4 linked regions of the Homo sapiens genome follow. The protein of the gene in region 1 purifies or fractionates together with the protein of each later gene. This does not show direct contact. Each region holds a gene or a part of one and is shown in the gene's direction. Other genes may lie near its edges.

The links.
Region 2: the proteins of STPG2 (region 1) and TF purify together in Homo sapiens (affinity purification with mass spectrometry; 3 studies listed by BioGRID and IntAct, with this or other methods). This does not show direct contact.
Region 3: the proteins of STPG2 (region 1) and NYX purify together in Homo sapiens (affinity purification with mass spectrometry; 3 studies listed by BioGRID and IntAct, with this or other methods). This does not show direct contact.
Region 4: the proteins of STPG2 (region 1) and TTC5 purify together in Homo sapiens (affinity purification with mass spectrometry; 3 studies listed by BioGRID and IntAct, with this or other methods). This does not show direct contact.

Annotation. Positions count from the first base shown.
Region 1 is NC_000004.12:97,559,458-97,566,481, reverse strand, and holds part of STPG2 (sperm-tail PG-rich repeat-containing protein 2), read left to right. Parts: intron 1-7,024.
Region 2 is NC_000003.12:133,749,389-133,756,412, forward strand, and holds part of TF (serotransferrin isoform 1 precursor), read left to right. Parts: intron 1-4,206; coding exon 4,207-4,315; intron 4,316-5,106; coding exon 5,107-5,283; intron 5,284-5,974; coding exon 5,975-6,107; intron 6,108-6,893; coding exon 6,894-6,949; intron 6,950-7,024. UniProt on the Homo sapiens protein: Transferrins are iron binding transport proteins which can bind two Fe(3+) ions in association with the binding of an anion, usually bicarbonate.
Region 3 is NC_000023.11:41,442,334-41,450,345, forward strand, and holds the start of NYX (nyctalopin precursor), read left to right. Parts: upstream 1-5,009; 5' UTR 5,010-5,183; exon of another isoform or gene 5,184-5,515; 5' UTR 5,516-5,571; coding exon 5,572-5,593; intron 5,594-8,012.
Region 4 is NC_000014.9:20,288,950-20,295,973, reverse strand, and holds part of TTC5 (tetratricopeptide repeat protein 5), read left to right. Parts: intron 1-119; coding exon 120-266; intron 267-447; coding exon 448-662; intron 663-3,846; coding exon 3,847-3,991; intron 3,992-6,227; coding exon 6,228-6,347; 3' UTR 6,348-7,024. UniProt on the Homo sapiens protein: Cofactor involved in the regulation of various cellular mechanisms such as actin regulation, autophagy, chromatin regulation and DNA repair.

The DNA of each region.
Region 1 (7,024 bases):
CGTCTCACTAGGGAGTGCCAGACAGTGGGCGCAGGACAGTGGGTGCAGCACGCCATGTGCTAGCCGAAGCAGGGCGAGGCATTGCCTCACTCGGGAAGCGCAAGGGGACAGGGAGTTCCCTTTCCTAGTCAAAGAAAGGGGTAACAGACGGCACCTGGAAAATCAGGTCACTCCCACCCCAATACTGTGCTTTTCCAACGGGCTTAAAAAATGGTGCACCAGGAGATTATATCCCGCACCAGGCTCGGAGGGTCCTATGCCCATGGAGTATCACTGATTGCTAGCACAGCAGTCTGAGATCAAACTGCAAGGTGGCAGCGAGGCTGGGGGAGAGGCACCCGCCATTGCCCAGGCTTGCTTAGGTAAACAAAGCAGCCTGGAAGCTCGAACTGGGTGGAGCCCACCACAGCTCAAGGAGGCCTGCCTGTCTCTGTAGGCTCCACCTCTGGGGTCAGGGCACAGACAAACAAAAAGACTGCAGTAACCTCCGCAGACTTAAATGTCCCTGTCTGACAGCTTTGAAGAGAGCAGTGGTTCTCCCAGCATGCAGCTGGAGATCTGAGAATGGGCAGACTGCCTCCTCAAGTGGGTCCCTGATCCCTGACCTCTGAGCAGCCTAACTGGGAGGCACCCCCCAGTAGCGGCAGAATGACACCTCACACGGCCGGGTACTCCTCTGAGACAAAACTTCCAGAGGAACGATCAGACAGCAGCATTCACAGTTCACGAAAATCCGCTGTTCTGCAGCCACCGCTGCTGGTACCCAGGCAAACAGGGTCTGGAGTGGACCTCTAGCAAACTCCAACAGACCTGCAGCTGAGGATCCTGTCTGTTAGAAGGAAAACTAACAAACAGAAAGGATATCCACACCAAAAACCCATCTGTACATCACATCATCAAAGACCAAAAGTAGATAAAACCACAAAGACGGGGAAAAAACAGAGCAGGAAAACTGGAAACTCTAAAAAGCAGAGTGCCTTTCCTCCTACAAAGGAACGCAGCTCCTCACCAGCAATGGAACAAAGCTGGACAGAGAATGACTTTGACGAGTTGAGAGAAGAAGGCTTCAGATGATCAAACTACTCCGAGCTACAGGAGGAAATTCAAACCAAGGGAAAAGAAGTTGAAAACTTTGAAAAAAATTTCGATGAATGTATAACTATAATAACCAATACAGAGAAGTGCTTAAAGGAGCTGATGGAGCTGAAAGCCAAGGCTCGAGAACTGCGTGAAGAATGCAGAAGCCTCAGGAGCTGATGTGATCAACTGGAAGAAAGGGTATCAGTGATGGAAGATGAAATGAATGAAATGAAGCGAGAAGGGAAGTTTAGAGAAAAAAGAATAAAAAGAAACGAACAAAGCCTCCAAGAAATATGGGACTATGTGAAAAGACCAAATCTACGTCTGATTGGTGTACCTGAAAGTGAAGGGAAGAATGGAACTAAGTTGGAAAACACTCTGCAGGATATTATCCAGGAGAACTTCCCCAGTCTAGCAAGGCAGGCTAACATTCAGATTCAGGAAATACAGAGAACGCCACAAAGATACTCCTCGAGAAGAGCAACTCCAAGACACATAATTATCAGATTCACCAAAGTTCAAATGAAGGAAAAAATGTTAACGGCAGCCAGAGAGAAAGGTCGGGTTACTCACAAAGGGAAGCCCATCAGACTAACCATGGATCTCTCGGCAGAAACTCTACAAGCCAGTAGAGAGTGAGGGCCACTATTCAACATTCTTAAAGAAAAGAATTTTCAACCCAGAATTTCATATCAAGCCAAACTAAGCTTCATAAGTGAAGGAGAAATAAAATACTTTACAGACAAGCAAACACTGAGAGATTTTGTCACCACCAGGCCTGCCCTAAAAGAGGTCCTGAAGGAAGCACTAAACATGGAAAGGAACAACCAGTACCAGTCACTGCAAAATCATGCCAAATTGTAAAGACCATCGATGCTAGGAAGAAACTGCATCAACTAACGAGCAAAATAACCAGCTAACATCATAATGACAGGCTCAAATACACACATAACAATATTAACTTTAAATGTAAATGGACTAAATGCTCCAATTAAAAGACACAGACTGGCAAATTGGATAAAGAGTCAAGACCCATCAGTGTGCTGTATTCAGGAAACCCATCTCACATGCAGAGACACACATAGGCTCAAAATGAAAGGATGGAGGAAGATCTACCAAGCAAGTGGAAAACAAAAAAAGGCAGGGGTTGCAATCCTAGTCTCTGATAAAACAGACTTTAAACCAACAAAGATCAAAAGAGACAAAGAAGGCCATTACATAATGGTAAAGGGATCAATTCAACAAGAAGAGCTAACTATCCTAAATATATATGCACCCAATACAGGAGCACCTACATTCATAAAGCAAGTCCTCAGTGACCTACAATGAGACTTAGACTCTCACACAATAATAATGGGAGACTTTAACACCCCACTGTCAACATTAGACAGATCAACAGACAGAAAGTTAAAAAGGATATCCAGGAATTGAACTCAGCTCTGCACCAAGCAGACCTAGTAGACATCTACAGAACTCTCCACCACAAATCAACAGAATATATATTTTTTTCAGCACCACACCTATTCCAAAATTGACCACATCATTAGAAGTAAAGCTCTCCTCAGCAAATGTAAAAGATCAGAAATTATAACAAACTGTCTCTCAGACCACAGTGCAATCAAACCAGAACTCAGGATTAAGAAACTCACTCAAAAGCACTCAACTACATGGAAACTGAGCAACCTGCTCCTGAATGACTACTGGGTACATAACGAAATGAAGGCAGAAATAAAGATGTTCTTTGAAACTAATGAAAACAAAGACACAACATACAAGAATCTCTGGGACTCATTCAAAATAGTGTGTAGAGGGAAATTTATAGCACTAAATGCCCACAAGAGAAAGCAGGAAAGATCCAAAATTGACAACCTAACATCACAATTAAAAGAACTAGAAAAGCAAAAGCAAACACATTCAAAAGCTAGCAGAAGGCAAGAAATAACTAAAATCAGAGCAGAACTGAAGGAAATAGAGACACAAAAAACCCTTCAAAAAAGTAATGAATCCAGGAGCTGGTTTTTTGAAAGGATCAACAAAATTGATAGACCGCTAGCAAGACTGATAAGAAAAGACAGAAGAATCAAATAGACGCAATAAAAAATGACAAAGGGGATATCACCACTGATCCCACAGAAATACAAACTACCATCAGGGAATACTACAAACACCTCTATGCAAATAAACTAGAAAATCTAGAAGAAATGGATAAATTCCTTGACACATACACCCTCCCAAGACTAAATCAGGAAGAAGTTGCCTCTCTGAATAGACCAATAACAGGTTCTGAAATTGTGGCAATAATCAATAGTTTACCAAACAAAAAGAGTCCAGGACCAGATGGATTCACAGCCGAATTCTACCAGAGGTACAAGGAGGAACTGGTACCATTCCTTCTGAAACTATTCCTATCAATAGAAAAAGAGGGAATCCTCCCTAACTCATTTTATGATGCCAGCATCATCCTGATACCAAATCCAGGCAGAGACACAACCAAAAAAGAGAATATTAGACCAATATCCTTGATGAACATTGATGCAAAAATCCTCGATAAAATATTGGCAAACCGAATCCCACAGCACATCACAAAGCTTATCCACCGTGATCAAGTGGGCTTCATCCCTGGGATGCAAGGCTGGTTCAATATACGCAAATCAATAAATGTAATCCAGCATATAAACAGAAGCAAAGACAAAAAACACAGGATTATCTCAATAGATGCAGAAAAGGCCTTTGACAAAATTCAACAACCCTTCATGCTAAAAACTCTCAAGAAATTAGGTATTGATGGGAAGTATCTCAAAATAATAACAGCTATCTATGACAAACCCACAGCCAATATCATACTGAATGGGCAAAAACTGCAAGCATTCCCTTTGAAAACTGGCACAAGACAGGGATGCCCTCCCTCACCACTCCTATTCAACATAGTGTTGGAAGTTCTGGCCAGGGCAATTAGGCAGGAGAAGGAAATAAAGGGTATTCAATTAGGAAAAGAGGAAGTCTAATTGTCCCTGTTTGCAGATGACATGATTGTATATCTAGAAAACCCCATTTTCTCAGCCCAAAATCTCCTTGAGCTGATAAGCAACTTCAGCAAAGTCTCAGGATACAAAATCAATGTGCAAAAATCACAGGCATTCTTATACACCAATAACAGACAAACAGAGAGCCAAATCATGAGTGAACTCCCATTCACAATTGCTTCAAAGAGAATAAAATACCTAGGAATCCACCTTACGAGGGACGTGAAGGACCTCTTCAAGGAGAACTACAAACCACTGCTCAATGAAATAAAAGAGGATACAAACAAATGGAAGAACATTCCATGCTCATGAGTAGGAAGAATCAATATCATGAAAATGGCCATGCTGCCCAATGTAATTTATAGATTTAATGCCATCCCCATCAAGCTACCAATGACTTTCTTCACAGAATTGGAAAAAACTACTTTAAAGTTCATATGGAACCAAAAAAGAGCCCGCATAGCCAAGTCAATCCTAAGCCAAAAGAACAAAGCTGGAGGCATCACGCTACCTGACTTCAAAGTATACTACAAGGCTACAATAACCAAAACAGCATGGTACTGGTACCAAAACAGAGATATAGATCAATGGAACAGAACTTAGCCCCCAGAAATAACGCTGCATATCTACAACTATCTGATCTTTGACAAACCTGAGAAAAACAAGCAATGGGGAAAGGATTCCCTATTTAATAAATGGTGCTGGGAAAACTGGCTAGCCATATGCTGAAACTGAATCCCTTCCTTACCCCTTATACAAAAATTAATTCAAGATGGATTAAAGACTTAAATGTTAGACCTTAAACCATAGAAGTCCTAGAAGAAAACCTAGGCATTACCATTCAGGACATAGGCATGGGCAAGGACTTCATGTCTAAAACACCAAAAGCAGTGGCAACAAAAGCCAAAATTGTCATATGAGATCTAATTAAACTAAAGAGCTCTTGCACAGCAAAAGAAACTACCATCAGAGTGAACAGGCAGCCTACAAAATGGGAGAAAATTTTCGCAAACTACTTATCTGACAAAGGACTAATATCCAGAATCTACAATGAACTCAAACAAATTTACAAGAAAAAAACAACCCCATCAAAAAGTGGGCAAAGGACATGAACAGACACTTCTCAAAAGAAGACATTTATGCAGCCATAAAACACATGAAAAAATGCTCACCATCACTGGCCATCAGAGAAATGCAAATCAAAACCACAATGAGATACCATCTCACACCAGTTAGAATGGCAATCATTAAAAAGTCAGGAAACAACAGGTGCTGGAGAGGATGTGGAGAAATAGGAACACTTTTACACTGTTGGTGGGACTGTAAACTAGTTCAACCATTGTGGAAGTCAGTGTGGCGACTCCTCAGGGATCTAGAACTAGAAATACCATTTGACCCGGCCATCCCATTACTGGGTATATACCCAAAGGACTATAAATCATGCTGCTATAAAGACACATGCACATGTACGTTTATTGGGGTCATTTCTTTCTAATGACAAGAATGAGTCAAACACATTTCCTTATAGATTTGCTTTTCTGAGTCGTTCCCCCCTCCCCTCAATTTTACTCATTCATGTTGTCACCTTCTGAGAATACATCTTGGGTATAGGTCTCTGATCTTCTTTACTATGTTGTACTGGCTCTTTCGAAACAAATGTTCCATGCTACCAGATGTTGAATCTCTGGATTCATGCTTTCTCATTGTTTTGTTTTGTTTTACTTTGATTTTTGCCTATGGGTACTTCTCTCTTCTCTGGTAAATGGAGAAAAGGAGAATTTAGATCTATGGCTTTAACAGTGGACACTCATCTCCTTCAATCCAGTGTTAAAGAGGAACATGTTTTCATTGCTCGTGTCTGATAAGCCCTCTCTTTTTAAATATTCCCTTACATTTACAAAGAGTACCTAGTTCTTTCCCTCTCTTAAAGGGCATGGAGTCTCATTAAACAGTCATGTTCTTCAAATGAGATTTATTTGCCCTTGTCTAGACACTTCTAGTACTCCAAAAAGGAAAGGAGAGAGTCTTATGGCTGTACCCAAAGTTTTACAATATGATTGATGACAGAGCACATTAGATTTTCTATTTAGCCAATTTTCCTAGTTATATTTCAGCAGAGAAGGGTACTATTTCATAGTTAGGAAACAGAGTAATTTTCCGATGATGTCATAACTCCAAAATGTTGGAATAAGAATTTTGACTCAGACTCATCTGCCTCCAAGACCAATTTCCACTGTACTACACTGCTTTGGAATAAAAATTATCCTAAGGGTCATCATGGGAATCTGTAGTCTGGGAGGATATCAGATATTAAGGCCTGATCAATGAGAGCAGACACTGTTTAAATATGATCACCCTACCGTTCAGATTTGTCTGTTAAGTAGAAAAGATTGAGACTTGTGGAGGACAAATGACTTGCATCAGTTGAGGAAGGCTGGAGAAGGAAAAGGCAAGGAAATTAAAGAATTGAAAATGCTTTGCATACAGTAGGCTCTTACTATATATTTATTAAATATTTGTTATTGAGTAATGAAGTGTTGGTTAAAATATTTTGATCTTTTTGTCAAAAGGACATTAGGAATTGGAAATAGCATAGAATACTTACAGGTAAGATAACTTAGGCAGGAGCTGAAACTGAATTGGTCAAAACTCCAGAGTAGAAAAGAGAGAATTGAAGGTTAAATATACTGTAGTAATCAGTGCAAAATAACTAATGTTCTGGAAATCAGAAAGTTAGGACAAAGGTCAGTGAAGTCATACTTTAGAGTAGTCAAAAAAGCCTGGAAATTAATTGAAGCTGAATAGCTTTTGCAAATTTCAGAGGAAAAATAAAGAACAAAAAGAATTGTAGAAAGGTTTGACTTGAAACAGTTTCATCTATAAATAGAAACACCAAGTAAGCCATATCCTATTAGGATAGG
Region 2 (7,024 bases), on another chromosome or scaffold:
TGGGGCTGCAGTGGTGAATTAAACACATTGGTCCTTACCCTCAGGGAGCTCATGGGCTAGTCAGGAGAGCAGAAAAACACACGAATAAGTAAACTACTAATTCCAAAATGTGGGGATGTACAATGGAGGGAAAAAGGAGAGTGTTCTGACAGGGACTCACAGAAAAACCTGCTTTGTCCTGGGTGGTCAGAGACCATCTCTCTGAGAGAGATGTAATGAAGGACTGAGCCTGGGTGGGCTCCAGTGTAAAATACACCAGGCAGCAAACAAGAGCATATGCAAAGGGCCTGAGGCAGAGCAGAGTGGGCTTATTTAAGTTGCTAGTGGGAGGCCAGGGTGATGGGAGCTGTCAAAGATAAGCACAGCCAGATATTAGTTTAGGCAGTGACAATAGGTTTCATTCAGTAACTGCTGACAGTGGGGGAAAGAGCTAGGCTCCATTCTGATTTGTGCAGTGGTGATGTGAGCATTTTAAAGGGAGAATGAGGGAGGGGAGAACGCAGGGCTCTGTAGAGTCAGAGAAGTAAAAAGGTAGAAAGGGCTGGTCAGTGTAAATGTGAGGAGGCCAGCTGTGTCTGATAGCTGGCAGTTCTCTCGATTAGGACTCTATTCTCCCGCAGAGACTGCGAGACAGACACTCTATCCATCCTGATGATTGTGTTGCAAAGGAATGGCTCTCAGTCCTTGAGAGAGATGCTTGTGAGTTTCAAGAGATACATATTCACAGTTTTAAGTCCTTTTTAGTAAATTCTCTTGGAAAGGGAGGTCAGGGGCCTATCATCAGTTGTGTGTTGAGTAGAAGAAACAGGTACATTTTCCTGGCAGCACTGAGTTTTCTCAGGCAAGCACTTTAAGGGGAACCGGGCCATCCTAGGGACACAGATTTGTTCTGCTAGGAGCCATGCCAGAGTCTGGTCAGGTCTCTTAGTGCAGAGGTTTGGACAGATGTGTCAAGTGTGGGAAATTCTACAGTTCTCAGCACAAAGCAAGCAGTAGGTTAGCCGAAGGGAAAAGGTGGAAGAAACATCCAGATGCAGCCTGGCTTCCCTCAATCCCCGCGCTGGGGTTTTCCGTGTCTTTCTGCTGGCTTCCCCTTGGCTTCCCTCCAGCCTTCTCTCTGTAGCTTTCCCTCTTCTGGGTTTGGTTATTTTGACTTGTGAGAGCTTGCTTGATTATAATCCTGTCCCTCCCAGCTGGCGCAGGTTCCCCTGGGAACCCTGCAGCTCTAGGGCTGGACGCTGTGTTTTAGGCCTTAGCTCTTTGGCTCCCTGAGCCCCCGAGGCACCAGTGATTTCTTGGTGTCTTGGCAAAGAAAGACCAGGTTCCTGACCACTCTCCCAACCCCACTGCAATGGGCAAAGCTCTCGTTTGTTTGCTTCATTTTTTAAAAAATATATATATATTTTATTATACTTTAAGTTCTAGGGTACAAGTGCACAACATGCAGGTTTGTTACATATGTACACATGTGCCATGTTGGTGTGCTGCACCCTGTTTGCTTCATTTTTATTCAACAATGTGAGGACTGGGGAAGGGAAGGTGTTTGCAGATTAAACAAAACCACGAAGTGTGTTTCATATATAAGGTCTAGTTGTTGTGGAACAGAAAGGCCCATGATGTCTGTTAATTTTGTTTTGTATTGTGGTATATTAAAAATATGTTTTACAACCCAAATATCCATTGATGAGTGAATAGATAAATAAAATGTGGTAAACACAAATGATGAAATATTTTTAGCCTTAAAAATAAATGAAACTCTGATATATGCTACACTGAGATGAACCTTGAAAACATAAGTGAAGCAAGCTAGATACAAAAGGACAAATATTGTAAGATTCCACTTTTTTTTTTTTTTTTTTTTTGAGACGGAGTTTCGCTCTGTCGCCCAGGCTGGAGTGCAGTGGCGCGATCTCGACTCACTGCAAGCTCCGCCTCCCGGGTTCACGCCATTCTCCTGCCTCAGCCTCCCGTGTAGCTGGGACTACAGGCGCGCGCCACCATGCCCGGCTAATTTTTGTATTTTTAGTAGAGACGGGGTTTCACCGTGTTAGCCAGTATGGTCTCGATCTCCTGACCTCGTGATCCGCCCGTCTCGGCCTCCCAAAGTTCCACTTTTATGAAGTATCTAGAATAGTCAAATTTATAGAAACAGAAAGTAGCATAATGACTACCAGGGGCTGGAGTGGGGGAGAAATAGGAGGTAATTGTTTAATGTGTAAAGAGTTTCAGTTTCTGGAGATGGATAGATGTGATGGCTATAAAACAACGTGAATGCATGTACTTAATGCCACTAAAATGTACACTTGAAAATGGTTAAAATTGGCTGGGTGCGGTGGCTCACGCCTGTAATCCCAGCACTTTGGGAGGCCGAGGCGGGTGGATCACCTGAGGTCAGGAGTTTGAGACCAGCCTGGCCAACATGGTGAAACCCCATCTCTACTAAAAAAAATACAAAAATTAGCCGGGTGTGATGGCAGGCGCCTTAATCCCAGCTACTTGGGAGGCAGAGGCAGGAGAATCGTTTGAACCCTGGAGGCAGAGGTTACAGTGAGCCGAGATTGAGCCATTGCACTCAAGCCTGAGGGACAAGAGCGAGACTGCTGATATAGTTTGTCTTACAACATATTTTATTTCATTTAGAAATACTATTGTCTTATTACTTGATTGTAACACAACAAAGTTCATGGAACTATAGCTTTTGCTTTGTAATTTTTTTTTTTTTTTTTGAGAGTCTTGCTCTGTCACCTAGGCTAGAGTGCAGTGGTACAATCTCGGCTCACTGCAACCTCTGCATCCCAGGTTCAAGCGATTCTCCTGCCTCAGCTTCCCAAGTGGCTGGTATTACAGGCATGTGCCACCAAGCCCAGCTAATTTTTGTTTGTTTGTTTTGGTAGAGACAGTGTTTCACCATATTGGCTAGGCTGGTCTCGAACTCCTAACCTCAGGTGATCCACTTGCCTAGGCTTCCCAAAGTGCTGGAAGTACAAGGTATGAGCCACTATACCTGGCCTGCTTTGTAATTTGATCAATAAGAAATCTTCATAGAGAACTGGCAAGGGCTTCTGGAAAAATCATTTTGATTAAAGACATTTAAAACAAAAAAGGAGTAAAACTATGTGTTTAAGTGTCTAAATAAAAGATGGTTGGGCTCACTTTAAGGATTTACATAAAAAGAAAATAAATTATAGATCTAGTAAGAAGGCAGCTATAATATTTCAAGGGACCTGTTGATGTAAAGATGAGGGCTTACAGAAGCACAAAGTCAAAAAGGAACATAACCTGAAGTAACAGTGTAATGATAAGAAATAAACCCGGAATGTCTGCACTGAAATCCCAGCTCCATGACTTACTGGCTATGTGGCCCAGGGAAGTGACTTAACCTTTCTGTGCCTCATATTTCTCACTTGTAAAATGGAGCTGAGAGAGAAAGAGAGATGAGCTGCCCATGTGTTGGAGTAGACAATTATACCAGAGATGAGCAAAAATGGAAATAATAATCAAGCTTTTGATCATTCAGTACATAGTATCACCAAGAAGCTAAACCCAGAGAAAGTGCCCAATCCCTCAGCAAAAGGGTCATGCAGTTTTATGGACCCAGGACAGGAAGGAAGAGCATTGAGTACTGAGTCAGAGTGAAGACGAATGTTTTCAAGGTTCCCATCTTCCCCCAGAAAAAAAATCTCCACAGAAGCACCTGAGGAAGACCTCAAAGGAAGTCTCAAAATAAAGAGGGCTCTGAGCAAAGGTCATGGGCTAGGAATGAAAACAGGTGTAAGAAGAGCGTGGCCAGCCCAAGAGAGCTGTGTCCTTGACAGCAGAGTCCCCTCCAGAGACTGCATTGCACTGGCTGTGCTCTGAGTCTGGGGTGGCGAGGGCGGCTTTCTCCCACGGAGCCTGCCAGGTTAAGCCTTCGTAATTGCCTACGGTAAAGTCACGTAGGATTTTTGGCCAGGAGCTGGGCACCTCACCGGGGAAAAGAGAAACACAATCCATCACTCCCTCTATGCAGAAGGAATAGGAATGTGGTGGCTAAGTGCCCTTGCGAGGGAGACAGAGTCAACTGAAGCCAGCAGGGCTGTGCGTGGTCTAGTCAAGTTCTGGCCCTGGGTCCGTGGAGTCCTGGTAGCCACTCTCTACTTGTGTGGGTTGAGGTGGGCCTTCCTTGGAAGTCAAGGCTTCATCCAGGACTGGCCTGTTCTCTTTCAGGCAAACGAAGCGGATGCTGTGACACTGGATGCAGGTTTGGTGTATGATGCTTACCTGGCTCCCAATAACCTGAAGCCTGTGGTGGCAGAGTTCTATGGGTCAAAAGAGGGTAAGTTCTCCCTGGGACCCCAGGAAGGAGTTGTCATCCTTATTCTATATGCTGAGTGCTGTGTTTTACAGGCAGGTTTTGGATATCAGATATAATGAACATTCATCTTTGGAGAGTGAGTAGAGAATGAGGGGCCCTGTCAGCTGCCACAGCCACACATCAAGGCCTCTGGGGGCTTTGGGCTGGCTGAGGACTGGTGCTCCTAAAACTGAGCCCTGGGCCAGGGGCATATGCTTATCAGAGAAACACAGCAGGCTGTGTGCAGCTTGACCTGAAGGCTACTGCGGTCTACTGATATGTCTAGGGTCCCTGGAGGCCTCTGGAGCCATAGGTACCACTCACACAGGAGGGGTCACTCTGGAGCACACACTCAGAGGCCAGCAGCCCTGCAAGTCTTCTGAGATCAACCTGACTGTCTCTGGGCCTGTGCCAGGGGACATGAAATACTTTGATGGGCCTCTGTTACCACAGCTCCAGTTTCCTGGTGGCTGAGGTTGGTAGGTGTAGGCAGACACGCTGCAGGGCCAGGGGAGGCAAAGCATTCAGGACACATGTGCGTGTGGCCTTCTTGCCCCTGTTTGCCTGGAGGGGTAATATTATAAATATTCCTTCTATGGTCTTCTCTCTCCCCTGCAACCCTAGGAAGGTTTTCCTGATTCCCCACTCCTTATCGCCCAGTCCAGTAAAAGCATGGCCTCTCCGCTCCCCTCCCTCCTCAAGAGTCCGGTGGTGATGAGCCATGTTTCCCTGCACCAGGCTGAGGGCCTTCCATTCACACTGTGCCTTTGCAGATCCACAGACTTTCTATTATGCTGTTGCTGTGGTGAAGAAGGATAGTGGCTTCCAGATGAACCAGCTTCGAGGCAAGAAGTCCTGCCACACGGGTCTAGGCAGGTCCGCTGGGTGGAACATCCCCATAGGCTTACTTTACTGTGACTTACCTGAGCCACGTAAACCTCTTGAGAAAGGTAAGCTGGCAGGAGTCTGGGTGCCCTCGAGCAGCTGCCTCTGCTCCAGATGCCCACACAGGCTGCACTAGACAGTCACCATCAGCAGACATGTGGGATGAACTCAGGTGGGGGAAAGAGGTTAACAGACTTTAAACTGGCAGGTCTGCTGCACCAGCAGCACTTGGGAGGTGGAGCTGAGCTTTTTTCTGCTCTGAGCTTCCAAAACCCCAGCAGAGGCTGTTCTGATGAGTGAGGAAAGGGCGCAAGGCTCGGCAGAGGGTTTCAGTCTAGGCGATGGTGGTTCTCTTGTCCACTTCTCTGGATTTCTTTCCTGGAGGTTTCTCTGGAGCCCTGCACCTCTCTTAAGCAGTTCTCATGTCTGGGGCATGGATCCCAGAGGGGACCTCTCTCTGAGCTGTTCCAGCCTCTGACAAAGCAGGGAGAAGGTGCTCTGAGAAAGACCCGAGATAGGCCTTGGTTAGTGGGAAGCATAGGCCTGTTTCCTCTGATGGATGGTGGCCAGACAGAGGTCAACTTGTTCCTATTAGAAATCCTTGATCTTGATGAGTTAGCATAAGGGCAAGCTGGGGCTGCATGTGCTGGTTTGGTTTTAGTCCCCTCTGTTCCCTGATGGGCCTGGGTGGGGTGATGCCATTGGCTGTGGCCAGCCTCACTCATGCTCTGTTGTCCATTTCTCTGTGCTGAGCAGCAGTGGCCAATTTCTTCTCGGGCAGCTGTGCCCCTTGTGCGGATGGGACGGACTTCCCCCAGCTGTGTCAACTGTGTCCAGGGTGTGGCTGCTCCACCCTTAACCAATACTTCGGCTACTCGGGAGCCTTCAAGTGAGTGAGATGTCTGCTGCTCCATGGTGGCCAAAGTGCCAAATGTCCTCAGGGTGAGAGTTCTTTGCTGGTCCAAAGCCGAGCCCTGCCTGCCTACAGGGGCATCGAGGTGGCCTAATCCCCTCCCAGTGAGTCAGAAGCACAACCTGGGACTCCTAGGCCAAGCCAGCCCATGTTCCCTTTCATCTGACCCTGACAAGTAGGTCCTTTTCCTGGGGACCCTTCCTTTCTCCCCAGAGCCCTCAAGCCTGGTCAGTGTCTCCTCTCGGTGGATCGGGCAGAGCCTGAAAGGACAATCATGCCTCTAGTGTCTGGGCCCACTGTCCAGGGACTGGCCCTCTTCCCTCAATCTCAGCAGTGTTACCTGCTCAGCACACTGCCTGTCTCCTGCCCCCATCACCGTCTCTATCTGGGAAGCTGATTTCTTGCTTTCTCTTTTTACCTTGATTATATCCTAAAGTTTTACAACCAGCCAAAGGCACATTTTCACCCTCAGGAGACACTATACCATTATCTTCTATTCCAGAAGTTTAAAAGCTCTTTTCACATGAAAATATCTTCAGTTGCATTTTGCTTCTTTGGGTTATGAGGGCTTTTTATCTCGTGTGAGCTCATTCCCCCATCTCAGCACTACGCTGGAGGTCTGCACACCATGGTGTTGCTTCAGCTACGGGGCTGCACCAGGCTCTATCCTAGTGTGAGTGCTGGACAGTGTGATCAGACTCTCCAGGTGCAGGAGAAGGGCCTGCCCTGCAGGAGCCCTGCTGATGTGTTTCTTTGACCCAGGTGTCTGAAGGATGGTGCTGGGGATGTGGCCTTTGTCAAGCACTCGACTATATTTGGTAAGAATGGGACAAGAATCCACCAGGGCCACTCCAAGTAGTGGGTGTTCTTTTTCTGTGTTCCCTTTTTCATGC
Region 3 (8,012 bases), on another chromosome or scaffold:
CCCGAACCTCGGTGCCCTCTGGCGGCCACGCTGGGCAGGACCGGGCTCATCGGGGGCGTGGCTCGCCCCGGAGGCTCCGCCCCTTCTCCCCAGGGTGGGGCCGGGGTGGTGGTTACCGGCAGAGGCTGCAGAGGTTTCGCAAGGACGTGACCTTTATGGGAAAAAAAAACCACTGTGTCACGCACGGTTGCCAGCCGGGGCCAGCGAGCTGAACTAGTTTTCTGAAGCCCGCGGAGGGAGGAGCCAGAGCGGAAACGTCCAGCCCAGTGACTCGCTGCCTACTGCCCCTCCAGGACCGCGGCGGCGCGCCCTGAGCCCCGGGGCACCAGATGGGGCGCGAGCCCGCACCTAACTGTGTCCGGGCCTGCCGTTGGGGCGACGTCACTGTCACTACACTGGGAGTCAGCGGAATGAGGGCACTCTCGCCTCTCTTCCTCCTTCCTCCAATTCCAGAAATGAGGCCCGGGAGCCCAGGCTGATCCAATCCAACCCCACTGAGCTGGGGTTTGGATTGGAAGGGCGGATGTGAAACGACAGAAGTAGGATAGTTTGCGAATAAAGAACAAGGGAGTTGGGTGCTTTAGCCACAGAATAGGTTCAGCCAAGGTCATTTAGAGGTGCCCAGCAAGAGGGGAGTGGCTACCCCTCCCCCATCCTGATCTGAGGCATGCAGTGGGGACGTCGGGGGTGGCCACAGGGGCTGTGTGTGTCCTTATTAGGACCCGAGAAAAACCCAGGGACTGGGAGGCAGGAGGACAGGGTACCCACTGGGTCCCAGCTCCACCTTCATATGTCACTCTGGGGAGCAGGTCACTTAATCTCTCTGGGCCTCAGTTTCCTCACTTGAAGAATGAGGGGTCTGGACAAGATTATGGAATATGTTTCGAGTACAATCAGGCCTAGGAACTGAAAGTCCCTGTCCTGACACCATCCAGTAAGTCAGAGAAAAAGGAAGGGTAAGAGGCCAAGGCTGTCACTCACCCGGTTCTCTTTCTATAGCTCCCTTACAAATTCTCACATGGGCTTCAATTCCCTTCAGCAAACAATTGTGCACTTCCGCCTGTGTGCCAAACCCAGGCTTGGGCCCAGCTTTGTGGGGCCTGGGGCAAGAGTACGCACGGAGGACCACACACTGTATGTCTGAATATTTAAAAGCTACACATCAAGCTAAAAAACTGTTAAATAAAACATGTTCTATCCTCCTATCTGAGCAGATATACCTTCATAACAATCTGGAAGGTTAAATTCAAGTTTGCAATTCTTGCATTCCTCAGCATTCTGGGCTAGGGTGTGATGGCACAGAGAGTGGCCCCAGCTCAAGGCCATGGCGTAGCTTCCCTCTATTCCCAGGCCGGATCCATCCCATGCTATAGCGGATCTTTCCCACGCACGTCCTCATATCCAAGCTCTGTCCCCTTCTCTGCAACTGTCTACCCCCTAAAGGATCACCTCTCGAGTATGCACATTGGTGAGACCATCCACCTTCAGGAGACTGGACCTAGAGGAGTGGGTTCAGAACCTGTTGGGCAGTGAATTCCCAGGTCGCAGGTATCCAGAACGTGGTTCTGGGTGGGTAAGTGTCTTGGCCTCAATGACTCCTTGCCCTGTGTCTCCCTGCCTCTTGCCCTGTCTGAAGGCGACACCAGCCAGACATTGTGGGAGTGCAGACTTGGATCAAGCACAGCCCCTCCAAGGAGGCCAGCCATCCAAACACTATGAACTTTGGGCGCAGTGGCTCAGGCCTGGCGTGGTGGCTCACGCCTGTAATCCCAGCACTTTGGGAGGCCGAGGTGGGCGGATCACTTGAGGTCAGGAGTTTGAGGCCAGCCTGGACAATATGGTGAAACCCCATCTCTACTAAAAATACAAAAATTAACCGGACATGGTGGCGCGTGCCTGTAATCCCAGCTACTCCGGAGGCTGAGGCAGGAGAATTGTTTGAACCCGGGAGGCGGAGGTTGCTGTGAGCCGATAGCGCACCACTGCACTCCAGCCTGGGCAGCAGAGCGAGACTCAGTTTCAAAACAAACAAACAAACAAACAAACAAACAAACAAACAAACACTGTGAACTTCGAGGCAGATGCCTGCAAGTGAGAAAGGAGGGCACTGGAAGGGGATTCATTTCTTAGAGGTGGTAGCGCTTATGCTAAGCATAGCAGGCAGATTGAGATTTCAGCAGGTGGAGAAGTGGGGAAAGAAAGGAGCAAAGCAAAGGCCCAGGAAGGGCTACCCAGGGTTGGGGTGTCTGTGAATTGTCACTACAGGGCAGAAAGGCTGGAGGGCAAATCTGTGTCCTCCAGATAGCAGGCAAAGCCTCCAGTAGTCGCCGGCTGTCTTAATTAATCGGTAATTCTTACCAATTCCAAGGTGGGGAAGCCTGGCCAAAACGGCGAAACCCCATCTCTGCTAAAAACACAAAAATTAGCCAGGCATGGTGGCCGGCGCCTGTAGTTCCAGCTACTTGGGAGGCTGAGGCAGGAGAATGGCTTGAATCCAGGAGGTGGAGGCTGGCAAAATCATGCATCTTGGGCCATCACTATTTCTCAAGGTCACTTACACACCCCTTCTCCCTCCTTCAGCTCCTTTTATGGGCTACCAACTGCATGATGAGTGAGAACTAGCATGGGTACAAAACCACCCCAGGAGGGCCAGGTACAGTGGCTCACGCCTGTAATACCAACATTTTGGGAGGCTGAGGCCAGTGGATCATTTGATGTCGGGAGTTCGAGACCAAACTGGCTAGCATGGTGAAACCTCATCTTTACTAAAAATACAAAAAAAATTAGCCGGGTGTGGTGGTACTCACCTGTAGTCCCAGCTACTCAGGAGGCTGAGGCAGGAGAATTGCTTGAACCCGGGAGGCAGAGGTTGCAGTGGGCTGAGATCACGCCACTGCACTCCAGCCTGAGGGACAGAGTAAGGCTCCATCTCAAAAACAAAAACGAAAAAATCCCTCCCCCAGCAGCCCACGAGTGGCTGGAGTAGGCTCTGAAAGGGCCGGCCTTTCTCCTGTCTTGAGCTTTAAGTTTCTCCCAGGGGAAGTCAGTCAATCGCATTTCCTGTAACAACCCTGGGCCACCTGCTTTTCTCCCTGCAGCAAGGTTTTGATTAAGGGCTGCTCATCCTCCCAAGTCGGTGGTACCAGCTCACCTGGTGGATGGGCTCCTTCCTTTTTATGCCAAGAGTCTCTGATGCCTCCTTATTTTCCACTTGGGAGAAATGTTTCAGTTCACAGGTGGAGAAGAAGGTCTTCCTTAGTGGGATCCCAGTGCCAGAGCACCAGGCCCACTGGCCTGGAGAAGATTGAAGGGAAGGTTGGACCAATAAGCTGCGAACAAAGGTTGTGGGTGCAGACAGGTTGGCTCTTACAGTCGAGATTCAGCCTCTGGACTGCTGCTGGGGGAGTGGGGGCTTCGTTGGGCTAAGGCTTGGGGTGATGGCTACAGGGACACCTCCGACACTGGTGGTCACAATGAGAGGGCTGCCCACTGCTCTCATCTAATAAGCCAGGCGAGTCCAACACTGGGGATAGAGATGTCATTTGAGAGGCCTCCCCCACCCACATCCCTACCCCATCCCTAGTATTCTCTTCTTTCCAGCAGGTTAGACAAGTTCAGCCACATTTTGGCTTTCAAGGCTCAAATGGAAGAAAACAAAAATTCCCCAGGGCACGGTGGCCTGAGATGTCTAGATTCACATCCAGAACCCTTTCTGTGGGAAGGGAACTCCTGGCTTCCTTTCATCAGCACTGGCTCACCAAGTCCTGCGTGGCCAGAACTTGGCAGGTTGCCATGGATACCTGGAAGTGCTGTCCCAGCAGACAGCAGAGGCTTGCTGGGGCCAGGAGAATGTGGGGGCACCTGAACTGCTGGCCAGAAAGGCTAGATAAACAGGCCCCCCTGCCACCCTCATTTTGATCAGACCCCCTCCACCAGTCTCCTAAAACAGGGCTTTCCAAACTTTACCGGGCACAGGAATCCCCCTCTCCGCCGACCTAGTTAAAATGCAGATGCTGGCCGGGCGCGGTGGTTCACGCCTGTAATCCCAGCACTCTGGGAGGCCGAGGCGGGTGGATCACAAGGTCAAGAGATCAAGACCATCCTGGTCAACATGGTGAAACCCCGTCTCTACTAAAAATACAAAAAATTAGCTGGGCATGGTGTAGTCCCAGCTACTCAGGAAGCTGAGGCAGGGGAATCGCTTGAACCCAGAAGGTGGAGGTTGCAGTGAGCCAAGATTGTGCCACTGCACTCCAGCCTGGGCGACAGAGTGAGACTCCATCTCAAAAAAAAAAAAAAAAAAAAAAAAGCAGATGCTGATTCAACAGGTCTGGGGCGGGGGGTAGAAGGCGCTGAGATTCTGTTTTCCTAACGAGCTCTCAGGTACTGCTGCTGGTCCACCGGCCACACTGAGTAGCCAGGGCCTAAACTGAGTCCTGGTGGGTTTCAGAAACCTCAGCCAGATTCTGAAGGTCCCATTCCTGGACCCACTGCCTTAGGCCACCACTACCAGCCCTAACCCCAGTGGGAACCTCTTGCCTTCTTGTAGTGGAAGGACTCTCTCCAGTCCGTTTTTGTATCATTCACCATCAACCACTTCAAAGAAAGGAAATCAGCAGCCGGCATTTTGGGGAAACATTTTAAGCTGTCCTGTCCCTTCTCCAGCTCTCCAAGTTATATAATGCGTCCTTGTTGAAAATGCTGATAATGCTGTTTGGGTGGCAGGAAGCCAATTTCAGGCTACATATTGCTTGGGGCTGGGGCTGGGGTCAGGGAACGGGGCAGGGTCTGGGGAAGGTTTAAGGAGAGAAAGGGGCCAGGCAGATGGAGAGAGGACAGGAGGGCCAGGGTGGTCAAGGCCCGGGGATAAAGCCGATTGGTATGTCAGCAAAATCTGTCACTGGCTTTAGTGATTCGAAAGGCAGACACATTCTTTCATCTCTGTTAATCCTCATGTGATACAGAGGATTTTCCTGCCATTAAATCTGGAGAAAGAAAAATAAGCACTCAAACCTGCACAAGTAACTATTCCTCTTCACCCCTTCCTCCCGTCCCCCCACCCCCACCTTTACTTCTCTCTCAAACCATTTTCAGCATCTGTGGCTGCCTGACTTGGGAGATGGATGGGCTGAGGGAGTGGAGGGGGACCTCAGAGGAGCAGGACCAGGGAGACTCCCAGGACGGTAAGCAACATTTGAGGACCATTCACTAACGCTTCTCTGCAGGGGTTTCCTCTCCATCCATTTCCTTGCTGGGTTGTCAGTGATGCCATCTGAGTTGCTGTCAGGGCTGTAGCCTGACAAAGGGTTTCCTAATAGATCCAAACTGTCCATTTGTGGGGAGCTTCTGATTTTCTGTTGTTACTGGTTTCCCTTAGCCCAACACCAGGGTCATTAAGAAGGAAGGAATGTGAGGAAGAAAGAAAGGCAGGGCATTCAGGAAGAAGTGTGGAGGCATGGGAGGGTTCTCATGGGGCCCTCCTGGGCACTGGGTGACCTGTCCTTTCTCCCCTCAGGTAGGGGTCCCACGGCTGGGTGGTCCTAAGCCACTGGGTGGATGAAAGGCCGAGGGATGTTGGTCCTGCTTCTGCATGGTGAGTTCTCCTGCCGGTGGGTGCAAGGGTTGGGAAGAGGGGTGGAAGCCACAGAGCTTCTGCCCAAAGAGTCTTTAAAGTGGCTTCTGGGACAGCGGTATCTGGACACTTCTGATCAGGTTTCACTGACCCTGTGATCGTGGGGGAGGGGATAGAGAAAGCAAGAAAACAGCAGGTGGTGGGGATTTTTGTTTCCTAAAAACAAAACTCCTGAGCCGAATATATGAAATAGTCCTCTTGGTGATTTTCTTATTCTAATTTCAGATATGAATTCATTGGTGTGATAACCAAAAGCTACAGTGCTACAGTGTTTTTTTGTTTTGTTTTGTTTTTGGAGATGGAGTCTCGCTCTGTCACCCAGGCTGGAGTACAGTGGTGCGACCTCGGCACACTGCAAGCTCCGCCTCCCGGGTTCACGCCATTCTCCTGCCTCAGCCTCCCGAGTAGCTGGGAGTACAGGTGCCCGCCACCACGCCTGGCTAATTTTTTGTATTTTTAGTAGAGACGGGGTTTCACCATGTTAGCCAGGATGGTCTCGATCTCCTGACCTCGTGATCTGCCCGCCTCGGCCTCCCAAAGTGCTGGGATTACAGGCGTGAGCCACCGTACGGTGGTTTTTTCTTTTCTTTTCTTTTCTTTTTTTTTTTTTTTGAGACAGAGTCTCACTCTCGCCCAAGCTGGGGAGCAGTGGCATGGATCTTGGCTCACTGCAACCTCCGCCTCCCGGGTTCAAGTGATTCTCGTGCCTCAGCCTCCTGAGTAGCTGGAACTATAGGCACCTGCCACCACGCCCAGCTAATTTTTTGTATTGTTAGTAAAGACGGGGTTTCGCCATATTGCCCAGGCTGGTCTTGAACTCCTGACCTCAGGTGATCTGCCTGTCTCGGCCTCCCAAAGTGCTGGGATTGCAGGCATGAACCACCGTGCCCAGCCTACAGTGGTTTCTAATCACATTATTTTAAGCTCATTTAGTTAAAAACAAAAGTCCCTTTAAAAAACCACCTTCCTAAAGGAAAAAGAAAAAATGAAAAATGCCTTGGAATTATAGGATTATGGATATTGAAGTTATTTTTCAAAGTTTCTCGCTCTGTTATGTGCACTTTAATATACCAAGAAGACTCGTTATGAAATATTTTCCCTGGCTCTAGCTGTTCCAATCTGACTGAGATAGCCCAAGGAAAAATCCTTTAAATTCTTCAGTAAATGATTCTACACAAAGAATCTGTTTTTTTCTGACCCTCAAGTGAATTTAATTATTTGAGATATGATGATCTATGTAATAGACCTCTGTATGCGATGCTGATAGAGAACATTTTACCAGATCATCTAAAACAGGAGTAATGGAGTTTTCTTCCTCTTTATTCCACCTTTTCAAAAACCGGAACTTGCTCTGTTCAGTCAACCAACAGGCATACACTGTGTGCCTTCAAAACGCTCGAGAGATATTTATGAGGGATATAATAGCATGCTCTTTGTCTTTGAGAAAATTCTTTTATAAGAGATTCAATAAATAAGCAATAAAAAAAATTGGAGCAAGGCACGTGGAACACTGTGATAAATAGGACATGACTTCCTACCTCGAAGAGGTTCTAAAGAACAGAGGTTGATATTTATATAATTACTAACAGTCAACTTCTTGCCATTCCTCCTACCTTGAAAAAAAAATGAAACTTGATTGACTCATTGGGGCACAATGTTTGCTTCCAACAGCCAGTATCATTTTAAACGTGCACCAAAAGCTCTACCGTTCCTCACAGAAAGCAGACCGTATTCATAGCCTGCACACTTCAAAACAGGAACTGTCCCTGCTACAGAAACCCGAAATATATCCAGACTTCTTGTGACAAGTTGGAGAGCTCAGCGGTGACATCATTTGCTAACAATAGATGCACTTAAAATTAATGACCATCTCCACATCCCCTGGCACTTTAATTTAAAACACACTCTAGCAAGCACAGAGAATATTTCTCTGACTGCGAGTCACAAGCAATACGGACAATATGTTCCCGAGAAGCAGGCAGGGATAGTGCTCTACCTCCTTGGCCAGAAAGAAAATGACTAAGTGAGCCTCACAAAACAACACCTTGGAGAAATCAGAAGTGGCTCGCAGCAGGGAAATTTGGGGCAAGAGAAATTCTCCTCTGGACACACAGGGCTCCTGGAAGTGCCCCACTTCTCAGATGCATAAGTGCAAATACCTCCACCTCCTCCCCCCATGTTAACCCCTGGGGTCTTCCCGCTGTTCACAGCATAATATCTGAAACCCTTAACTTCTTTTACAGGGTCTTTCACATGTGACTTCCTCTACACTGAGTCTTCAAAGAGAGTCAGGGGTTGTGTGTTTGTGTTTTTTGTGTGTGTTTCTTTTGAGACAGGGTCTCGCTCTGTTGCCCAGGCTGGAGTGCAGTGGCATGATCTC
Region 4 (7,024 bases), on another chromosome or scaffold:
CACAGGAAAATAACCAGGAAGGAAAACAGTTTATTTCTCTAGATTCCTAGCCCATGGTGCCATTCCCTCGGGATAGTTTGTCTGGATATACTTATAATTGGGATACACTTCTTGTACAGTTGCATAAATATGAAGAGAGTTATGGGGAGGCCCTGGAGGGCTTCTCTCGGGCTGCAGCCCTGGACCCTGCCTGGCCAGAGCCCCGGCAACGAGAGCAACAACTTCTGGAATTCCTGGATAGATTAACCAGCCTCCTTGAGAGTAAGGTAAAAATGTCTGAAGGGCTGAATTCCACTTTTTTTTTTTTTATTTTGTCGTGGGTCAATAAAATAAGAATAAATAGGTTTACGAGGTAGAGACCCTATAGAAGTGGGTGGGAGGGAAGGATTAGAATCTCAAGGAAGGCGACTAGTTTCCAGCTTCTTACCTATTTCCCCTTCTTTGCAGGGAAAGGTGAAGACCAAAAAGCTGCAGAGCATGCTGGGAAGCTTGCGCCCAGCCCATCTAGGCCCTTGCAGTGATGGGCACTATCAGTCAGCCTCTGGGCAGAAAGTGACCCTGGAGCTCAAGCCACTGAGTACGCTTCAGCCTGGGGTGAACAGCGGTGCCGTCATCCTGGGAAAGGTGGTATTTAGCCTCACCACAGAGGAGAAAGTCCCCTTGTGAGTTTCTCTTGGATTTCCCCCATTTTACCCTTTTGAACTAATTGCTCTCACTTCCTGTTCTTTCCCTGGCAGTTGAGGAGATTGTCAGTGGTCACAGATTTGTGACTTCTGATTTCCTTCTGTGACTATCCCGTGGGCAGATATTGTCTGGGTGATGTTTAACCATCTTTTGATCAGAGGCTTTTGTAGATTCTGTCACTGCCCATTTTGTATCCCTGAGTTTGGTGCTATGTGGATTCCTATATCCATAGTTGAAATTTGGCAGGACATATTTTTTTATAAGACAGAAACCTCAAAATTCTTCTGTCCCTTTGCATTTTCATGATCATAGAAGTTGAAGGAGGACAAATTTCTTAGTCCTGTTTGTACTTAGGTATACTTAGTTCTGAAAAGTGAGCTTTGAGTTATAATTTAAAGTCTGGTTGGGAGATTGTCTTAGATGTCATTCAACAAATATTTATTGAGTGTGTAATATATGTGTCATAGGGAGTGAGAAAAAAGAAATGTAAAGGACCCAGGTGCAGGTGCTTCTAGCAGCAGAGGAAATGAATTAAGAATATTTGTTTAGAAAATTTTTGGATCTTGAAAAGTTACGGTTTAGTGAATGCCACCACTCCTTGGTCCTTCACTCACTTCCTAATCCCTGGTTGACCGGTTTCCCCTTTCTCTTTTCTACTGAAATTGTTATTTTCCTAGGATCACCATTGTCTTTCTAGGCACTGGATCCAGCAACTTCTATTGCATGGTTCCAAAACATTCTGACTTATCTCTCACTATTGCTTTTCACATCCTTTCTGTTCATCTAAACAGAAATATTCACAATTCCCATTATATGCCCAAGCTTTCTCCATGGCATTTTCTAGGGGTTTGTATATTTGACGAGTTGAAGGGCAAAAAGATAGTTGAGAACAGTTTAGTTTACTAGAGCAAATCCTAGAGCTGAGAAGAATTAGAAAGGGATATAGACAAAGGTAGGTTTTGGAGGACCTTGAGAACAAATAGATATTTTGCCACTCCTTGGTTTCTCTTTTTCTGCCTAACTTTTAAATCTTAGGTTCCCAGGACTCTATTTTTGTTTTTTTCCTTTTTTCTCTTTATATCAGGATGGCCTATAGTTGCCAACTTTGATCACTTGTCAGTGGTTGCCTGACATACTGTGTAGAAGGATTCTGAGGCTTTGACTGGATTCATCAGGAGAGTGCTTTGCTTGATTGCAATATTTCCTGTGAATTCAGGCATGTCACGTGATGGCATGAGTGTGATTCTTCTCCATCCTGTCTATAGATCATCTTGCCCTGTGATGTCATATAAACCCAAGGCTTTGGCAGCCTCCTATATGCTTACAGATATATCTCCAGCCCAAGCTTCATTTCCAAGTGTTGGATTCCTATAACCATCTGCTTCTGGGTTCCAATAAGAAATCTCTAACTCAGTATTTCAGTATTACTCACCTAAATCTTTCTCTGTAAACCTGCTTCTCCTCCCTGGATTCCTTGTGAATGAATGGTATCACCTCTCAGTCACTTGATTAAGACTTTTGGAAGAATAGGCTTCTCCATTCTCCAAAAAGATTTGCCTTTTTTGTCCTATAGACTTGACTTCTCTGTGTTTACCACCTTAATTCACCCCCTTATCACTTCTCCAGATAGGTCTCCCTGATTCTCTGGTTTCCTCCAGTGTTCCACAGTGCTGCCAGAGAAATGTTTCTTAGATGGAAATCTGACCATTGCTACTTCTTATTTAAGATCCCTTACTGGTACTATATGTAGCTTTTGGGATAAAGTGTGAACTACTTAGGTTAGCATACAAAGTCCTTCATGATTTGCTCCCTGCTTCTCTTTCTATTATCTTTTGTCTCTTTCCCACCAGTGCCTTTTGTTTCAACCATGGAACAATTTTGTTGGTTTTAGAACAGCTGTTTTCATGCCTCTGTGTCTTACATACAGTTACTCTGCCTGGATAATCTCTAGCTTCTTCTTGACATAGCTAACATCCTCTTCTGCCCCCAACATTTTGTATAAAAATTTTCAAACATATAGCTAAGTTGAAAGAGTTTTACATTGAACATTTGTGTTCTCATCCACTTATATTCTACCATTAATATTTTATTTTACTTAGCTTATTACATATCAGTCTGTTTATCCTGCTATCAGAGTAAATTGCAGAGATCAATATACTTTACATACTTTAGCATGCAGTCATTAACTGAGTTCAGTATTTGTTTCAATTTTTTCTTTTTATGTAAAATTTACATACAATGAAATGTACAATTTTAAGCGTACATTTCATAGCTTTTAACAAATGGAAAATATCTGTATAACCCAAATAGAGATCATTACCACCATTCTGGGAAGTTCCCTGATGTTGCCTCCAAGTCAAAATCTCTGTTCCTATCCCCTCAGAGGTTTTTAACATTTTTACCGAGGATTAATTTTTCTCTTTTAACCCAGCTGGTTTTTTACCCTTTAAGATTCACTTTGAGCGTCACCTCTTCCAGGAAATCTTCCCTGCTTTCCAATTTTGATTTAGATATTTGTCCTCTGGGCTCCCACAGCCCAATCTGTGGCTTCATTGAATTCAGCACAAGGGAAAAGCTATTCTAGCACCCATCACACTGTGCTGTAAGTGATGACTTCATTGTCTGACTCCTGCTAGACTATAGGTCATTCATAGCTGGATTGGTATCTTATTGCTAAACACAATGCTTGGCACATATGTAATATTCAGTGAAAGTTTGTGGAGTTAAACTACACAGACAGTGATGGTTAGAGGCTTTGGTTAAGAGTATGATAGTTAAATTGATAGACCAGGAATAATGTTACAACTGTAACATGTTGGTCTAGTTCATCATTAATATTTGTTGAATGGCTTCAGTGTGCTTTGTCCTAAGTTCTTAGCAAAGTGACTGATGAGTTTCAGAAAAATGAAGACTCAGATATATAAAGTGGAAGATGGTACCTCTCATAGGTTTTCTGAGTAACTGAGAAAAAGCATTTGTTTATTTTGTTAGTATTTTATTTTTAAAGTTTAATTAAGTTAAATTTTATATTTTATTTTAATTACCTGTCACTGACTTTAAGTCCAGTATTTTGCTAGTATTTTTAAACCACTGTTTCTGCTCTTCTTTCCTACCCACATACCTTTTTGTTTTCCTCTCTCCTAATCTGTCTTTACTTGGTAGTACATTTGGCCTGGTAGATTCAGATGGACCTTGCTATGCAGTGATGGTGTACAATATAGTGCAGAGCTGGGGAGTGCTCATTGGAGACTCTGTAGCCATTCCTGAGCCCAACCTGCGGCTTCACCGAATTCAGCACAAAGGAAAGGTGAGCAATGGCTAGGATTCTCTTACAACTCGTAGGCTCTAAAAGTAGAACCAAGCTTATCTTTTTATAAAAGATATAGAAATAATTATATGTAAGTATGTGTGTAGGCTATGTGTATATATATTTGTGTGTATATGTTTTATTTATATATATATATGTATTTTTTTACTAAAAAGGTAAACTGGTAAGCAGAAAAATAAAAAAATGCAGTGAAATATTATCACTCAGGTATTACTGCCTTTTAACTGTTACTGTTAACAGTTTGGTGTATATACCTGAAGTCTTTTCTTTTCACAAATATATACACATATATCTATATTTTAAATCATGAGTGGGATATTATATGCAAATGTTTGTGAATGTTTCCTATGTTTTTACATATTTCACCACATTGAGTAGACACGGGGTGATGAAGATGGTAATGATAGTTAACATTTATTTAACACTTAATTGAGTGCTAGACACTGTGCTAAGAGTTTTTATTACCTGCCTTGCCCCATTCAATTCTTAAAAAAACCTTATGAATGTAGATATTTAACTACTGTTTAACCATTTAGATCAGAGGTTGGCAAAGCCCATTGACCAAATCTGGCTCACTGCTTGTGTTTATTAATAATGGTTTCTAGGCTGGGCATGGTGGCTCATGCGTAAAATCCCAGCACTTTGGAAGGCCAAGGTGGGAGGATCACTTGAGCCCAGGAGTTTAAGACCAGCCTGGGCTATATAGTGAGACCCCGTCTCTACAAAAAAATGTTAAAAAACTTAGCCAGGTATGGTAGCACATGCCTGTAGTCCCAGCTACTAAGGAGGCTGAAGTGAGAGAACCACTTTATCTCAGGAGTTTGAGGCTGCAGTAAGCCATTATTGTCCCATTGCACGCCAGCCCGGGTGATAGAGAAAGTCTGCCTCAAAAAAAAAAGAAAAACAAGAGTGTGGTTTCTGTGTTGTTAAGTGAAAAAAATGGACAGAAGCGTAATATTTTGTGATATGTGAAAATTACAGGAAATTCAGATTTCAGTGTCCACAAATAAAGCTTTATTGGAACACAGCCACACTCATTTGCTTACTATTGTCTGTGGCTGTTTTTGCACTATAGTGTCAGAGGTGACTTGTTCTGTAACAGAGACCATATGACCTACAAAGCCTAAAATATTTACTATCTGTCCCTTTGCAGAAATACTTTGATGACCTCCGATCTAAATTAGTACTTTTATAATAGAAAAAAAATTAGAAACACAGTGAGGATTTTTGTATCTTTGCTTGTATCTATGATTAGTTCCTTAAATGAATTTCTAATGTAGACTCCTGGGTCCAAAGGGTATGCAGAATTCTGAGGCTTTTGATACATATTGCCAAATAATTCTTTGGAAAATTGTACTAGTTAGTTGTCACTACCAACAGTGGATGTAAATAAGTGTTTCTCTGTAGTTTTTTTCTCAACTCTGGTTGGAAACCTTTGAAAAGTTATTTTCTAATTTTACATGGAAAATATAGCATGAATATTAATTTATATTTCTTGTATAAATTGCCATTTTTTGTGTCACTTGTTGATATTTCTGTGAAGACTTAAAAAAAATTGGTTTATGAGAACTTTTAAATTTACTTTACTTGGACTTAAAAGAGCCTGCCTCTCATTGCCATATTTTTTGGATGAAGACTATTTAATATGTTTTACAACTTAAAATACACTTAAACTGATACAGTGAGCTGATACCTTTTTTGTTATTAGGAAAACGGCTACATTCTGTTTCATGTTCTATTTCCTCCTCTTGATATAAAAGAGAAGTAACTTTAATTTGTATTTGGTGGATTAAATTAGGACCTTATAAACATTTGGACTGAGATTTTCTCAGGATTCCCACTGGCTCTGGCCGGCTGCTATGTGTATCTAGTTAATTATCAGGAAACACCGTGGGAAAAGGCAGATTCTATGAGAGTTGGTTGCATTCTTTTGTTAGGCAATGCCAGGAACCTGCCTTTTTTGGATCAAAGAGCTGTCTCATTCTTGTAGTGGCACTACATGACCTTACATGCTCCATGTTTTCCTTCTGAAGATTGAAAACTTTGGGAAATTTTCGTCCCCTGTGTTAGCTCAGTTTTGTCTGATGTGAGATGGAAGTAGAGGGGGTATACAACAGGGGAGGTGGTGCAGAAAGTTGCAAGTGGTGTATCCCCATGCTGGAGCTTTTTCCATCTTGGAATCTGTAGTGAACCTTTGTCTGTCTGTCTTTTCTAGGACTATTCCTTTTCCAGTGTTCGAGTGGAGACGCCCCTCCTGCTAGTGGTGAATGGGAAGCCTCAGGGATCCAGCAGCCAGGCTGTTGCCACAGTGGCATCGCGACCACAGTGTGAATGACCTTTGACTTGCATGCTCAACAGGGAGTGGAGGAGAGGAGACAAGGCTCTGGACAGCCGGTCCAGCCACATCCAGTGATTCAGCAGGGATGGGAGGAATGTTTTAAATGAAGACTTTCTCTTTCCCTGCCTGTATTACACTTCGTATCTCTTCTCTCTCCTCTGTCCTCATCATGTTCCAGCTCTCTACAGGGCCACATACTCTTCTGGCATATCTCTCCTGTCTCTTCCACTGCTCTCTATGTTTTAAGCAAAGAGCATGGAATTGGTAGAAGTCTTGGGATCTTGCCATGGGACAGAGTCCCCAAGGTTCCTGTTGTTGCCTCCTTCCTAAGCCTCATATGTATATATCAGTTCAGTATTTATTGCTAAAGGAGGGGGCTTAATTTTGTAATGGCTTTTATTTTTAGCAATTTTTATTTTTATTTTTGAACTTTAGGTCCTTCCTCTTCTTTGGGGCTGGAACAGAATTAAATTTGTTTGGAAAAAAAAAAAAACACCACGTAGTTTGGCCTGCTTTATTCTCCCTAGGCCTGTATTCTTTGTTTTAGGATCACTTCAATTTATTGGAGTAATACCCCCATTTTTTTCTTTATACAAAGCAGTTTATTTCTCTCCCAGTTAAAAGAATTCCGACAATAGACAGCCCCAGGCAGGAATGGCAACTCCACAAAGTTG